Linked DNA regions of Homo sapiens: region 2 is linked to region 1. The links come from fine-mapping of genetic effects on gene expression. Tissue or cell type: whole blood. Region 1 holds a variant in brackets; the other region holds the start of a gene. All regions are shown on one strand. Distances are between the middles of the regions.

Evidence for each region. PIP is the estimated chance that this variant, and not a neighbour inherited with it, causes the effect.
Region 2: TSPAN2 starts here. The variant in region 1 is fine-mapped to the expression of TSPAN2 in whole blood (TOPMed, PIP above 0.99).

The regions. Positions count from the first base shown.
Region 1 is chr1:115,055,458-115,063,567 of GRCh38, forward strand. It overlaps TSPAN2 (tetraspanin 2), which reads right to left. Exons shown (of 8, transcript NM_005725.6): 3 at 6,678-6,775; 4 at 5,007-5,081; 5 at 3,426-3,524; 6 at 2,080-2,151. Among named protein-coding and RNA genes, the nearest start is that of TSHB, 30 kb to the left of the region's middle. RefSeq lists an enhancer at 6,875-7,398. The variant C/G (reference allele first, on the strand shown) is at 4,528.
Region 2 is chr1:115,085,202-115,093,311 of GRCh38, forward strand. It overlaps TSPAN2 (tetraspanin 2), which reads right to left and starts at 4,302. Exons shown (of 8, transcript NM_005725.6): 1 at 4,163-4,302. The coding sequence starts at 4,231.

The sequences.
Region 1 (8,110 bases):
AACTTAATATTACAACTTTAAAAATGCCTTGTTTCACTAAAAATTTCTTTGAAATCATGATTATGATGATTATTTTTTTTTTTGGAGACAGAGTCTCGCTCTCTCACCCAGGCTGTAGTGCAGTGGCGCGATCTCGGCTCACTGCAACCTCTGCCTCCCAGGTTCAAGTGATTCTCCTGCCTCAGCTTTCTGAGTAGCTGGGATCACAGGCACATGCCACCACGCCTGGCTAATTTTTGTATTTTTAGTAGACGGGATTTCACCATGTTGCCCAGGGTGGTCTTAAACTCCTGAGCTCAGGCAATCTGCCTGCCTCTGCCTCCCTAAGTGCTAGGATTACAGGTGAAATCATGATTCTTAATGGTGGTAAAACATTTCATCATATGAATATACTACAATTTATCCAAACAATCCCCTATTGCCACATATTAAGGGTCTGTCCAGTGTTTTGTTCTTATGAATAACATGTAATGAGCATGATTTGCACAAAAACGTCTGTCTGCATTTCTGATTCCTTTTCCTTAGAATAAACTCCGAGAAGTGGAATTTCTGGATAGAAGGGCATAAACATACTTAATCCTCTAGTCTTACATAGTCATACTGACCTTTAAAACTATTTACTAATTTCTCTGAAAATGCTCACGACATCACGTTTACCAAAACTGTGTATTATTGTTAAGGGAAAGGAAAAACACTTGGTCAATTTCATAGATTAAACAACAGCATCTCTTCATTTTAATTTGCTATTGATTTTAAATATTACTTTTAATTTTCTATATTTTCTATATGTTTAATGGTAATTTGGACTTTGACTTTTGTAAACTTTCTTTCTGTGTCCTTGGCTCAAATCGAAACTTCTTGAAAGGATGCTCTCTCTCCTCACATCTCGCTCTCTGAAACCTGGGCTCTGTCCTCAATCCATCCCTCACAGCACGTCACCAGTTGGTTCCTTGCATGCTAAATCCTGCCAGCTTTTCAGCAGTTATTAGTAGACCTTCTTAGGCTTTCAGTTCCCCACACAAACCATGTCATTTCTGCCTCTGTGTTGTTGCTTACGCTGGTCTCTCGGCACGCAGGCCTCCCCCTCCCGCTTTCTGCCCAATGCTTGCATAATTACTTTCCATTCTTGAAGATTTAGCTGAGACATCATTACCTCTGTCAGCCTTCCCCATCCCCCAGCCTCTCGCCTCTCCTAAGTGCGTTTCCCTCTGTGCTTTCCGAGCACGTTGCACATTCCATGCATTCCTAATCACTGGACCGTATGGACTTCATGTTCATCCCTCCTATCAGACTGCAATGCAAGCTCCTTGTGAGTAGGAACTTTTTCTCCTTCTCCTTTGCATCCACAGTGCCGAACATAAGGTAGGCAGCTGATCAATACTGAATTGCCCTCAACAGCAGCACCTGGGCCTGGTGACCATTCCCTCCCCTTCCCGTGCTGTCTCCTCACTTGTGTCTGGCCGCCCCTCCCAGTTTCCTTCTTTGGCATCTCTTCTTTTGCCCACCCTTAAATTGTCCCCCAAGGATCTATCCTCATCCTTCTTTTCTTCCAAGTCTAATGGATCAAATCCGTATTTATAGCTTTAAGTTTCCCATCAAGTGCTGACACTCAGACCTCTCTCCTGAGCCACAAACCAGATTTTCCAACTGCCTACTGGATATTTCCATTTGGAAGTGCCACTGGCTCCTCAAAATCACCATGTTAAACACAAAGCTCATTTTCTTTTCTCCACAATTGGCTCCTTTTCCTCTCTCCCTCAGCTCCATAAATGACACCATCATCTATGTAGGTGGTGAAGCCAAAAACCCAGTAATGGATTCTCCTCTCTTCTCTGGTCACCACTCCTGTAGTTGTCACTTTCTAAAGGGCCCTCTTTAACATCTCTTGCTAACAACAAGGACAGCAGCCTTCCCAATGGGTCTCTCAGCTCAACGCTATTCATTTTCCATCAATCCTCTATGCTGCCACTAGAGCAAATTCAGTAAAATGCAGATCCCATCCGAGATTCTACCTTCAATGGCTTCCTAAGCTAGCAGCATGATACTACAGGTAGAGTAAGAACCTTGGTAGAAGCTTACCTTGTGTCCTAGAAGCTCCTTTGGGCATGTAGGTTGGACCTGTTCGGAGCTTTCTTTTCCACAGCACTGAAACTAGAGAGTCAGAAAAGAGACTTCAGGACCAGGCGGGAGGAGTAGCAGCTACAAGTCTGGGCACCCTGCTAAGGACTGGGGTGCCGAGGCGGCAAAGCAGCTCCGAGGCCCAGTCACTGCAACCCAGACTGCTATTTCTGGAAGGAGAGTGAAGAATCACATAATCATGCTGGCAAAACAAGAAAATGACTTCGCTAAAGCCATCTGAGTTTATGATGGGAAGTGACTCAAGGCAACCCAAACAAGGCAAGAAGCTAATTGACAGTGTCTGTGTAAATTGCTACTTTTTAGAAAGGGGTTGGGGCTTTAGATTCCTTCTTTCAGACTGGGAGTCATTTAACCTGCTGAGGAGCTCAAGTTTTATGAGCTGCAGAAGGACTCATTAGCTGGGAATAGTCTGGGGAAGAGGGGAGAAGTGGCTGCAGGAAATTCCAGGGTCCAAAAGACCAGATTTGAAGATTGGCCAGCAAACAGGTGTCCTGCTTAGGCTAGCTGGCCCTTTAAGACAAAAGAACCTGTGTGCTGCTTCAGGTCCTGGCGGCAGCTGAGGTGAAACCGTATAAATGTATAAATGGTGGCCACTTTCCAAGACATACTTGTCCTAGACAAGAACTAGGTACCTGAAAACACCTGGCCCAGGAATTCACAGCTACTTCTTCATATCACAGTGTCTAAAAAATCAGAATAACTCTGGCCTGGCCCATCTCCTCTGTAAGCCTTCTGTGATTAACTGCATGTAGCTCTGAGCACTCCACGGACAGCACAGTCCCACTGAATGTTCCAGAAGGGAGTGTAGCCATCTCCTGTGACCCTTCATTCTACAAATGAGGGAGCTGCGTGGGTATCAGGGAGGCCAAGTAACTTGCTCAAGGTCACAAGGCTGTTGAATGGTAGAGCTGCAGCTAGAAATTAGCTTTTCTGACTTACAGGTCACACTTGTTTCTGTTACACCACAATGCTACCCTCTGACAAAGCCTGCTATTTATCTGGGCTCCTTTCTCTGTAACCTTGTTTGTGCTCTTTTGTCTCTTTGGGGCATGTGTCTTTTGGGTTCATGCTCTTCTGTCTCTCTTGTGAACTCTGTGTGATAGACATCTTTCCCTTCTAGGGTTCCACACATAATGCAAACTGTGGCCCTCAAAAGGGCTAAAATAGGTGGTGCTACTTGGCTTTACTGAATTTATTTTTATTTTTAATCCTGGTGATTGGTGAGAACCTGGCTCACACATAATCTTTAGAAGCTGTGATTTTAAGGAAGAAGTGAAGTTACTCACTGTTGAGTGGAAGGTGATGAGTGTCCCATTGCCTTTTCCCCTGTCTTTAAGGTAATCATTGTAAGCCTCTTCATACATGGTCTGAACATGTCGGATAGCCTGAAGAAATACAAGGAAAAATGAAGGACTTCTGGGTGGGAAGTTTCAAACATTCTCCTTTCATCAAGGAAAATCTCCTCTTCCACACCTTTGAAAAACACTGCCTTTCTCATAAGAATGATACAATGGACTTTGGGGACTCAGGGGAAAGGGTAGGAGTGAGGTGAGGGATAAAAGACTGCACATTGGGTACAGTGTACACTGCTCGGGTGATGGGTGCACCAAAATCTCAGAAATCCCCACTAGAGAACTTACTCATGTAACCAAACACCACCTGTTCCCCACAAAACCTGTAGAAATAAAAAAAAATACTGCCTTTCCATAGGTATTTTAGGATAATTCAGCAACATATGGAGAAGATTATAGTTTCTGGAGTTTCTAAGATGCTTTTGAGGATGGAAGGACAGACTAACCAGAACAGTTTTCATGGACTAGAAAGATTTCTGACAGTTCCCAAGCCCAACTGGGCTTCAGCATCAACTGGGCCCCAGATTCCTGGGCTCCATCCAGATGATTTGGATGCATAGCTAGGATCCGGACTTATACATTCCTGTTACCCCATTGGTTAAAAGCATTCAAATCTTTTTATGACGTGGTTTAAAAGGTATTCATCACCAAGGAAAACTTTCTACATTCAGATATCATATAAAGCTTAGAGAATGCTTTTTCTAGTATAAAAGCTTGTGATTTCAAATCCACAGATATCTCAACAGGTCCTAAGATTCCATTCTACTTCTGTATGTAGCTGAATTTAAACTAACCTATGAACACAGCCAGTTACTTTAGAAAAATTCAAAAGGAGGTGACATTTACTATTCTACATGTTTACTGTTTTATAGTCTAAAATAAGTTCAGAAACATAATATTAATGACACAAGAGTTAATGTGAAATACACCAAACTTAAGTTTCCATTCTTCCTCCTTTTCCATTCCATTCTCTTCTATCCCACAGTGTGTTTTACAGAGGAAGAAAGGCTACTTCCTCTGTGTGTCCCCCCGATAA[C/G]CTATTCTGGACACCTAGAGTTGGGCAGCAAATATAAACTGGCTTCACTAGCCCACAGCAGTGTAGGCTCTGCTCTTTGAGAATGAAATGGACCCATCCAGGCCAATCCTTAAGGACAAATGGCAGTCTGACAGGGGATGAGAATCTAGATTCTTTCTCAAGTCTGTACTCTAACTGTTACCCCATTTCACAATGGGGAAGAATCTTAAATTAGAGATCCTTTTTTTTTTGGTTTTATTATAGACCACTTCATAAGTCTAATGGAAGAGATGAACTATCTCCCCAGAAAAATGTGAGCATGTATATATGCCTGCACACTCATATACATATATGCTCAGTTCTGCACACCACTTCTAAGTTAAAAAGTTCTGTTTAAACTATAATAATGGGGATTATTTGGTTTCTTAACACTATTGTGGGTATCAATATTCTAACACTTTTAACCATCATAGAAAAACATTATAAGTAATTTTACTTACTACCCCCTTGCCTATAAAAGCAAATACTCCAGTGGTTACTTCAGCAGCAAATATCACCAGGAGGCAGGTAAAAAACTGTAGAGGAGAGAAAATACTAATTTCATTAATTTAATACCTTTTCAATTTATATATTTTGCACCTTAGTTTCCTTATGTAATGGCTGAATCGCTTTCATGTGGTTCATTCATTCATTCATTCATTCAGCAATTGTTTATTAGGCATTTATTCTGCACCAGGTACTGTCCTTGGTGCTGACTATTCAGTGGTGAACAAGATAATATCCAAATGTCTCTGTTATCACGGACCTTGGATTGGACAGAGGAATATACGATAACTGTGTAAAGAAGTTAAAAAGTGAATAAGATAAGTTCAGGTAGTGATGTAAAAATCCCACCACCTAGAACACCACCTGGCACCTACGTGCTTAGTAAATACTTGACGAACACAAAAGACCTAGAAAGATATAAAATAAGGTCAGGAGAGGGAGCATCACTGATGCGGCCTGGGCATGGGGAAGGGGGTGACTGGAGATTCTGTGGTCTGGAAAGGCTTCTTTGAGGAGATGAGGTGAGGGGTGTCCTTCTGGATGGATTTCTGTTCTGGTCTATGGATTTGCTCTGATCAAACTAAGTTCAGTGATAAACAAGACAGAAATGTGCTCAACAGTAGGAGAAAGAGAAGGAATGAATGGCAAAGAAATAAGTCAGACATTTCACATAGCAAGAGATCAGAGGCTACGGCCAGAGTTAAAAATCCAAATATCACAATAAGTAATGAGAGATGAGAGGCTGCCTATTAAAACTGCTGTTTCTGACTCCCTGTGGAGAAATATCAACACTTTCTCTCCTCCTGCCCCTCTTCTTCCTTTCTGTTTCTCTCAGGCTACACTGACATAGAATGTATAGCAGTTAATTGAAATTATTTGATTTTTGTTTTAAACAGAGGTTGCTTGTTAAAATAAGCCACAAGAGGGATTTTGGTTAAGTTATTGATCTCAAACATAAATGTTTTCCTTGTAGATAACAGCACTTCCCTGGCTATAGAAACCTTTTAGCTGCCTCACCCACTGTGAAATATTTTTTTTTAAAGAACAATCATAGTCACCCCTTACAATTACTAAGTACTTTTACTCCCAAAACATCTTTACACCAATGACGTCATTTCTTTTCACACTTCCCATATAAGGCAGGAACAAAGATAATATTTTTTTTCTTTTTTCTTTTTTCAAGACAAGGTTTTGCTCTGTCGCCCAGGTTGGAGTGCAGTGGTACAGTCATGGCTCACTGCAGCCTCCCAACTCCTGGTCTTAAGTGATCCTCCTGCCTCAGCCTCCTGAGTAGCTGGGACCACAGGTGTGTGCCATCACACCCGGTAGAGACTAGGTCTCCCTGTGTTGCCCAAGCTAGTCTTAAACTCCTGGGCTCCAGAGATCCTCCTGCCTCAGCCTCCCAAAGTGCTGGGATTACAGGCGTGAGTCATGGCACCCGGCCCTAGTTAGTATTATTCATATATAAGAGATGGAGAAACCAAGACTGAGGGAGGAAAAGTGCATGCCAAGGGCTCAGAGAGTCCACGGAGGAGCTGGAGCCAGGGGCCAGAGGCACTGACTCCCTTCAGATGCAGGCCGCTCCCTCACCCCCACCCCACCATTTACCCCCTCGCCCCACTTACTGATCCAAGCACACATTGCGACTCCCGCATGGCTCCGCAGCACCCGAAGAACCCCACGGCCATCATCAGGGCCCCGGCTCCAACCAGAACATACAGCCCTGTGGGGAAGAGGTCAGAGGAGACCACTGAGAGCCAACCGAGTGCCTCCACGACCAACTAGGCTTAAGACTCTGGGCACTGCAGAGCATTCTAATAGTACCAAAAGGAGGTGCTATTCTTACTGCCATGTTTGACACGGAGGAACTGGGCCCCAAAAGGTAAAGCGATTTGCTTAAGGTCATAGAGCTGGTGTTTGGCAGAGCCGGGAGAAAAATAGCCATGAGCCTCAAAAGCCTGCCCAACACTCCGACTCTGTCTTGCATCTCTAGTGATGGAGGCAGCCATCATTCAGGTGGGGATTTCACTTACTGCTTAGGCAAGCCCCACGTACAGTTCTTACAGAGAAAGAAAAGGACAGAAATGCTCTGGTTCTGAGAGAACTAAAGCCAAGCCTTTTTGTATTTCCTTCTCTGATCCTGAGATAAGTTAGAATACAATATGGGACTTGGCACTTGTCTTACTTGGAATCATGTTAATGGTCTCTATTTCATTTTTTGCATTTTACTCATATGAGTCACCTGGAAACCACTCCCATTAATAGGGAGGGTGGGGGCTGGTGCCCCGCCTCTGTGGGGAACCCCTGGGCCTGGCATTCAGGGTGCTTCCTGGGGCGCCTCTGGGTTGCTGATGGTGGTTTGCGGGCAGATCTGGCAGTTTACAGACCTAGTAGGAGCCACAGGCGAGGCTGCTCTGCTTCCTGCCCCACCCGGACCTGGCCTCAGCGTTCTTTTCAGGGCCCTGAGGCCTTGCTGCTCTGCAGTCCTGAGGTGGGTATTTATTTCCTGCTGTTCTAGCTCTACCACCTCCTCCCTTTCCCTTTTCTCTAAAAGAATAATTTCATGAGGGAATGGATGTGGTAATGTGAGAAATGATATCATATTAAAAATAATAGTGTTGTTGGCCCCACTACCTCAACACTTTATTGTTTTAAAAATGTCTTTCACCAAAGGTCTAATATCCAGAATCTGTAAGGAACTTAAACAAATCAACAAGCAAAAGGCAAATAACTCCATTAAAAAGTGGGCAAAAGACATAAACAGACAATTCTCCAAAGAAGACATGCAAGCGAGCAACAAACATGAAATAATGCTCGTCATCTCTAATCATCAGAGAAATGCAAATCAAAACCACAATGAGATACCATCTCATACCAGTCAGAATGGCTTTTGTTAAAAAGTCAAAAATAACAGATGTTGGCAAGGCTGGGAGTAAAGGGGACACTTTATACAATGTTGCGAATGTAAATCAGTACAGCCACTGCAGAAGGCAGTTTGGAGATGACTCAAACAACTGAGTTGAACTACCACTCGACCCGGCAATCCCATTGCTGGGTA
Region 2 (8,110 bases), 30 kb after region 1:
ATGTTGGGAGGGGTTTCACATTTGACATCAACCACGATAAGAGAAATTAATGTAGTGGGGTTAATGGCTAGGCTTTATTTTGTTTTTAAAAATTCAGTGGTGAGTACAGTCAGCGGCCCTGGGCCAGGGAATACTGTGCTGGCTCTGGCAGGGCCTGGTTGTATGTTTATGAAACCAGGAGCACAGCCTAGGGAAACTTAAAGCAAGCTGCCAGAGGAGGCTGCAAATTGATCTGTTAAATCGCAGATCACCAAACAGAACCTGTCCCACCTCTATGCTTACTTCTGGCGAGGTTCTGATTGGAAGGAAGTGCTGTCACCCAAGGAACCCCGTAACTCCGAGGGGCAGGCACATGAGCTTCTAAGGGTGTGTGTAAATTTATACTTCAGTCACAGCTAAAGTCTGGCCTTCTAGGAAAACTATCCCCCACCCCTTTCCCAAACTTCCCACGAAGCCCTCCAACCACAAAAAAACAACTTTAGAAACTTGAGTGGGGCTTTTCTGGAATCAGGTTCCCTCAGTTACAGTGAAGGCAGATATCTAGATACTTTATCCCACACTTTCCCTTAAGTCATGAGGTGCCTGTTTCAGTTGCCTCTTCGCTCTAGTTGCTGCCTCCACCCCCACCCCCCATGAAACTGGGGGAGAGGAAGGTCCTTCATGTCCTACTGCATGCCTTCTATATGCTAGGCACTATTCTAGCACTGGGGATACAGCTATGAGCAAAACAGAAAAAACAAAATTCCTGCTCTCAGAGTGTTTTAAGTTCTAGTGGGGAAAATCCACAAGTACAAATTGACAAGATAAGGTGTAGTTATCCTCAAATGAAGACAAATGGCAAGTCACTTGGCAAACTTATATACTATTCCCCACCAAGAAAGGAATCAGGAGAAAGAGAGCTAACATTTATTGAATGCTTCCTATGTGCCGATAACAAAAATAATAATTAATATTTTTGAGCATTTACTATGTCCTAGGCTCATAGGAAGTTGAGGTCACATACTTTATATATTCCCTCTTAATCCTCTCAATATTTCTGTTACTCCAATAGCACAGATGAGAAAACAAGCCTAGAAGTAACAATAACTTGCTCAAGTACACCCTGTTTGTGCAGGCACGCCCTGCTTGGGATCTCTGCACTCCAGCCTGATGGCTTCGACAGTCAGATGGTGGCGCACACTCCCCCTTGCTCTGCTCCTCTGCTGGTGGATGGTGCGTCACCCCCTCGCTTTGCCCAGCTCCATTCTACCAGTCCTTCCAGGTTTAGCTCGAATAGCTCCTTCTTAAGGAGAACTTTTCTGGCTCCTCATCATGACTGTGATCCTTTCTCTAAACTCCTTACTTAGATCACATATAGAGAAGGTCGGATCTAACCTCACTGGTTAACACATTCAAGCACTTAAAACTGCACTGCTCCTACTTCCTTTCCTTACTGTGCTTACGGTCAACAGTGTGAAACTTGTCACTTGATTCCACACTGTCTTATTTTTGTGTTGTTCCATATCCACTGGTCTCGTTTCCTCAATGAGATGAGCAGCTTAGGGAACTGTGTTTATATTTATAAATTATTATTTGTTTAATCATTGTTTAACAGAATGGGTCTCAAATTTGAGCATGGATCAGAATTATGTGAATGGCTTGTTAAATTAGATTGCTGGATCCTACCCCCAGAGTTTCTGATTCAGCAAGTCTGGGATGAGCTGAGAATTTTGTTTGTTTGTTTGTTTGTTTTTGAGATGGAGTTTCGCTCTTGTTGCCCAGGCTGGAGTGCAATGTGGCACCATCTCAGCTCACTGCAACCTCTGCCTCCCGGGTTCAAGAGATTCTTCTGCTTCAGCCTCCCAAGTAGCTGGGATTACAGGCACCCACCACCATGCCCGGCTAATTTTTGTACTTTAGTAGAGATGAGGTTTCATCATGTTGGCCAGGCTGGTCTCGAACTCCTGACCTCAGGTGATCCGCCTGCCTTGGCCTCCTAAAGTGCTGGGATTACAGGCATGAGCCACTGTGCCCGGCCTGAGAATTTGTATTTCTGACAAATTCCCAGGATATGCTGATGCTGCTGGCCCAGGAACCACTTTTGAGAACCACTGGTTAATTGAATGTACCACAGTGCTTAAGAGAAGGTAGGCGGCCAGGCGCGGTGGCTCACGCCTGTAATCTCAGCACTTTGGGAGGCTGAGGCAGGCAGATCATGAGGTCAGAAGATGGAGACCATCCTGGCTAACACGGTAAAATCCCGTCTGTACTAAAAATACAAAAAAACTAGCCAGACGTGGCGGAGGGTGCTTGTAGTCCCAGCTATTTGGGCGGCTGAGGCAGGAGAATGGCGTGCATCTGGGAGGTGGAGCTTGCAGTGAGTGGAGATCGGGCCACTGCACTCCAGCCTGGGCTACAGAGTGAGACTCCGTCTCAAAAAAAAAAAAAAAAAAAGAGAAGGTAGGCTGAGTTTGAATACCATCCCTGCCACTCACTAGCTGTGTGATCTTAGGTGACTTAACCAATTTGAGCCTGTTTCCTCATCTGTAAAAAATGGGGATAATAATAGTATATGTATATCAGGACTCTTGTGAGGATTATGTGTAATAATGAAAGTAATATGCTTAGCACTGTCCCTGACACATTGAAAACATTCAATGAATCCTTCCAGCTATCACTGGAAAGGCTGGTACAATATCAGCCACTAAATAAGCACTGAACCCAGCTTAAGAATTCCTCCTCAGGCTTAAAACTTCATAAGGCTTTGAATTCATAAGCAGTGAGAATGAAGGTTGTCACTGTGGCGTGACATCTATAATTAACAGCTTCTGAAATTAAGCCAGATTCCTAAAAAATACAACATAAAGGGTCTTCAGAAACGCCTCTCCCTATAGTATGCTTGATGTAAATCCCCACGTGTACAAAGGCCATGTGTCTCTTTAAAGTTCAGGGGATGTCGAGGAGGTACCTCCTTCACACCTTCCACTGCTGAAGGATACTGAAGAGCTTGGAGTTGCTGAAGTCACCCAGGCATCTGGGCTAATGGATTGACAGACAAAAGAGGAGCCCATCATTCAATAATTAATTAGTTGCAATCATGGGAAGACAACGTCCCCCAGAGCAGATAGGACAGCCACCTCCTCCAACCTGGTAGTTTCAAAGCACCCAGGCCCTGGCTGCTCTCAAACCTCTTTATCCAATGTTTCCCCTCAGGGTCTAGCTGAGCAGTTACACTGGCTGACATTCTCTTAAGAAAGCCCAAGAGGAAATGTGCAGAAAAGACAATTTTCAGACCTTGTCTCACAGTCCTGCAGGCCCTGGGACAGGGTATCCAGGGATGTAGGTCTGGTCTAGCTGTATCCCTGTCTCGATAATATAGGAGACAAGGGTCAAGATCCTATCTCTCTGTGAACCATGAATCCTGGGAACGCTGTCAGTTCAATCAAACCCTGCAAAGTTGAATGAGATCATCTCTGGGAGAATTAGTATTTAGCAGAGGCTGCGGCTGGGGGTTGTGGAGAGCTGCTGCTGCCCTTTAGAAGCCCTTCCATTCCCCATCCCCTTCTCAGAAGAGAACCCACCACCTCCTCTCACCCAGGGGTACTCTTACCCTGATGCCCAGAAAAAGGACGACGCCCCCCCACCACAATTTTCACTCCTATCTCCAATTTCCTAAACAAAACCATCACAGCCAGGTACAGTGTCCACACACTCGAATGGAGCACCACCCCAGGCAGCCCCAGGGCAGGGGTTTCTCTCCCATCACCCTGGCCAGGCCCTGGTTCCAGCTGGTAGGCAGAGTGAAAAGGGGGTGTGTGCACGGGAGACTGGAGGGGAACAGGGACCCAAGTCCTCCGGAGGTGAGGAGAGGCTGGGTCCCCGCACCTGGGGTCACTAGCTGGGAGATAAAAACCAAGGCAGGTGGGGGTTCCTTCCAGGAAAGAGCCACACGGTGTCTCTCCCCTTCTCACCATTTCTCATTGATCAACCTTCTGTCTTCCCGTTCTCTCCCTTCCATCCCTCCCCTCCCTCTTTGTTTGCCTTCTCCTCGCCTCCGCGTTTGAGCACCCAGCCCTCCCCACGAGCGCGACTCGGACGCCGCAGTCAGCAGCTCGGGGACCCCGGCCCCGCGCCCGCCACCCGGCCCCCTGCCCTGACCGGCCCTCCCGGCTCCTGGTCTCACCCAGAAGAGCAGGTTGAAGCCAAGCAGCAGGTACTTGATGCACCGCAGGCCCCCGCGGAAGCGCCCCATGCTGCGGCCCGGCGGCGGGATCCCCAGTCCCCAGGCCCGCGCTACGAGCGCGGGGAGCGGCAGGCTCCGGCGGGGAGGGGGCGGAGCGGGGAGGACCGGGGCGGGGCCTCCGGGGGGCGGGGCGGGGCCCGGCGGGGAGGGGCGCGTGGACCCCAAGCGGCGTGGCTGGCGACGGGTGGGGGCGCCAGCGGGTGGAGATCGAGCAGCCCGAGGGAGCACGTTCGCTCTTCTCCCGGACCCAGGGACCACCTTCCTTCCCTCCAGTGGGCGCACCGCCGCCGGCTATCGGAGCACCTGCAGGGCGGGAGCGCCCACCGGGGACTGGGGACCCATTTAATCAGCGCCCTGTGCGGAGACCGGTTTGAGGCCCGGGCGATGCTTGAGGGATAAGCACTTGGTCTCGTGGCTATGGAAATCTAGGAAGGTGACCTCGGGTAGAAGAGCTAAGTGGGGTCGGAGGTTGCCCCGAAGCTGGCAGGACCAGTCGCGGGGCACCTGACTGAGTGTCCAGGGCTGCGGCTCCGCGGCGCGGAGCAAGCACACAAGCAGCTTCTAGGGGACCCTCCCTCCGGCCCCTCCCCCCTCCTCGGGGGACTCTTACCTTAATAGGCAAGAACTGAGAGAGGGTGCGGGAGGCGGCGCCCTGAGTCCTGTGGGCTGCCCTCAACCCAGCCGGCCAGTGGAGGGAGTCTGACTTCTCATGTCCTGCCGGGTTCCACTGATCGGAGGGCTTGGAAGGATCCCAAATTTTCGGGATCTTAATTATGATGTGGAGATGGGAGAAAGGGGAAGGGGGCGGTTTTTGTTTTGCTTTGTTTTTATTAAGTTAGGCTGTTGGCAGGAAAATCAGACTCCCACTTCCATTGACTAAGTGTCTACAATATGTGGTGTCAGACAGTATGGGGGAGACAAGAAAGCAAAATTCGGAGAGCTTATGCATAAATTCAGCAAAACTTTGAGTGCCTATTATAGGCCAGACATAGTAGCAAGCCCCAGGGACTCAACAATGAGGAGACAGCCAGGCCCAGAACCACAGTCTCTGGTGTTGGAGACAGATCTGTAAGCAAATAGGGTGAGGAGAGAAGGGCTGGGTGCTAGACAGGTGTGCCTGGCCTGACTGCCTTAACCAGAAAAGGCATTGCTAAGGAGAGGGGCCTGATCTGGTCTAGAAGACGGAGCCCAGGCGGAAAAGATCAGTCCAGGAAGACAGCATGCGCAAAAGCACAGAGCTGGAGAGAACAAGGCCTCCAAGGGAGTTCTGAGAACCGCAGTTAGCCCGAGTGAAGCCTGGTGGGGGCAGAGTGAGTCAGGAAGGCAGGAGCCAAATCACAGCTTTCAGTCGGCTGACCAATGTGCCAAACTGTCATTGGCCCCGAGTGTCCCCACGTGCAACATGGAGGTAATAGTACTCCCCTCATAGAGTTGTGAAGATAAATGAGTTAGTATTTGTGAAGTGCCTAGAACAGTGCCTGGCACAGATTAAGTACTGCATAAGGGTTAGTATTATTGTATCACACTCTTATCAGTCAACCATTCAGTTTCTACCATGTTGCCATCTTTGCCTACCTCTGTGTCTTTGGACATTTGTTTGAATATCGACTCATTTATAAAAACGAGTCAAAGACAGAAAAATGAAAGTGCTGATTCTAGTAATAAACATGTCTCCAACAATGAAATAAAGACAAAGATGGAAGTCATTAGGTATGCAGAGAGAAGTGAATCATTAGCTTCAATCAAACACTTATAGTTCTATATCTGTCACCTCTGTTTTAGTATAAAGGAAAAGAACTAAGTTAAAGAGTAGTGTCTGGTACATAGAAGGCGTTCAGTAAATCAACTGAATGAACAATGATATTATACTTTAAATATATCGTTGAATTTTACATCTCTAAGACAAAATATGTCTAGAGATTATATAGAGGGAAGAGAACCCCTATTGTAACATATACATCTATTGTTTGTTTTTTTCATGCTACGATTTTAGCACACATGTATTAGAGACAGATGGTGGTTGCCTGTCCAACATAACAGTTTCAGATCTTTAGTATAGACTTGCCCAGTCGCCCTTTCACAAAGTTGTATGTCTTAAGGGAAGCTGACCCTTGAGAGGAATAGGCGAAGGTAATCCCATTTCCCTTGTAGTTAGTTCAGGAAACAAATTGACAAGCATCCTGACTAATGGGATGGGAGTGGTGTCTACTGAGGGGCCAGATGGTCTTCTTCCTCTTGAAGCTGTTGGATCTGGATGGTATACATAGAGTTGCTATATCCATCTTCATACCAGCCTGAGGAGAGATCCAACATTGAAAACAGCAAAGCAGGAAGTTGAAAAAACCAGAGTCATAGGTGATATTACGCCATAACTGAGTTAGCCATTTCTGAAGCCAATTGAGGTTTAGGTTTTTGTGTACATGTATGTGTATGTGTGTGGACGCATGTGTGTTAGTCCATTCTTGTGTTGCTACAAAGTAGTACCTGAGACTGGGTAATCTCTAAAGAAAAGAGATTTAATTGGCTCACAGTTATGCAGGCTGTACAGGAAGCATAGTGCTGACATCTGCTTCTGGTGAGGCCTCAGGAAGCTTTCAGTTGTGGTGGAAGGTCACAGGGAGCCAGTGTGTACACAGCGAGAGTGGGAGCAAAAGAAGTGGGGAGTTCCACACTCTTTTAAACAACCAGATATCACATGTGAACTCAGAGCAAGAACTCACTCATTATAGGGAGGATGGCATCCAGCCATTCATGAAGGATCCACTCCGATCCAATACCTCACACAAGGTCCCACTTCCAACATGAGGAATTGCCATCATCAACATATATGTATGTATTGTGCCTGAAAGGCATTCCATACATTTTCAAGGGTATATTACTATAAGAAAGTACAGGGCTACATTAAATGACATAATAAGGAAGTTAGCCTTTAAACTGTCACTGGCATTGCTCCCTTTTCTCTTTTTCCTGTCTTGAACTCAGACATGATGCTTGAAGTGCTAGAACATTTTGTGACTATGAAGAAAGGGCAAGACAATTGCAGACCTTCCAGCTAGGACATTGTGGAACTGCTGAACCAATACCAGCAGCTACCTAACTCCACATTTCTTATTATATAGGAAAAATAACCCTCTTTTTGTTTGACTTTGTGTTGTTACATGTAGCTAAAGATATTCCTGACTGGTAGAGGGAAGACAATACATTCATTTTTGGATCTGCTGAGTTTTAGATATGGTGGGAAATCCAGATGATGTGGAAATATGATTGGATTCTGGAGAAAGGTTTGGATGGTAAGTTTAGGGTAAAGATTCTTCAGCAAATGGTGATAAATAGAAGCCAGTGGTCTTAAAACTGTTGCCCACACATGCCCTAAAATAGTTACAAAAATATTTTCTCTTGCATTTTTTCCCAATATTTTATTATGAATATTTTCAAACGTACAAAAAATTTGAAATAGTTGGGCAAGGAGCACCATATACTCACCATCTAGATGCTACAATAAACATTTTGCTTTGGTTGCATTACTTATCTATACATCTGTCCATTTCTCAATCTATTTTTTTTTATTTATTTCCAAATAAATTGTAGGCAGTATGTTTCACTCCTAAACTCTTGAGCATGCATAACATTACCTAGAGTTCAAATATCTATTTACTATTTTTCTAAAATTTACCCCAATGAAATGTACACATTTTAAGTATATTATTTAATAATTCTTGACAATGCTTTTGCCTTTCTAACCCCGAATCCTATTAAGATATAGAATATTACTGTCACCCCAGGAAGCTTTCAGGCTTTCATATAACCCTTCCCAGTCAATCTATGCCCACATCCCTCCTAAAGGCAAACACTGTTCTGATTTTCTTTCACTATAGATTACACTTGCCT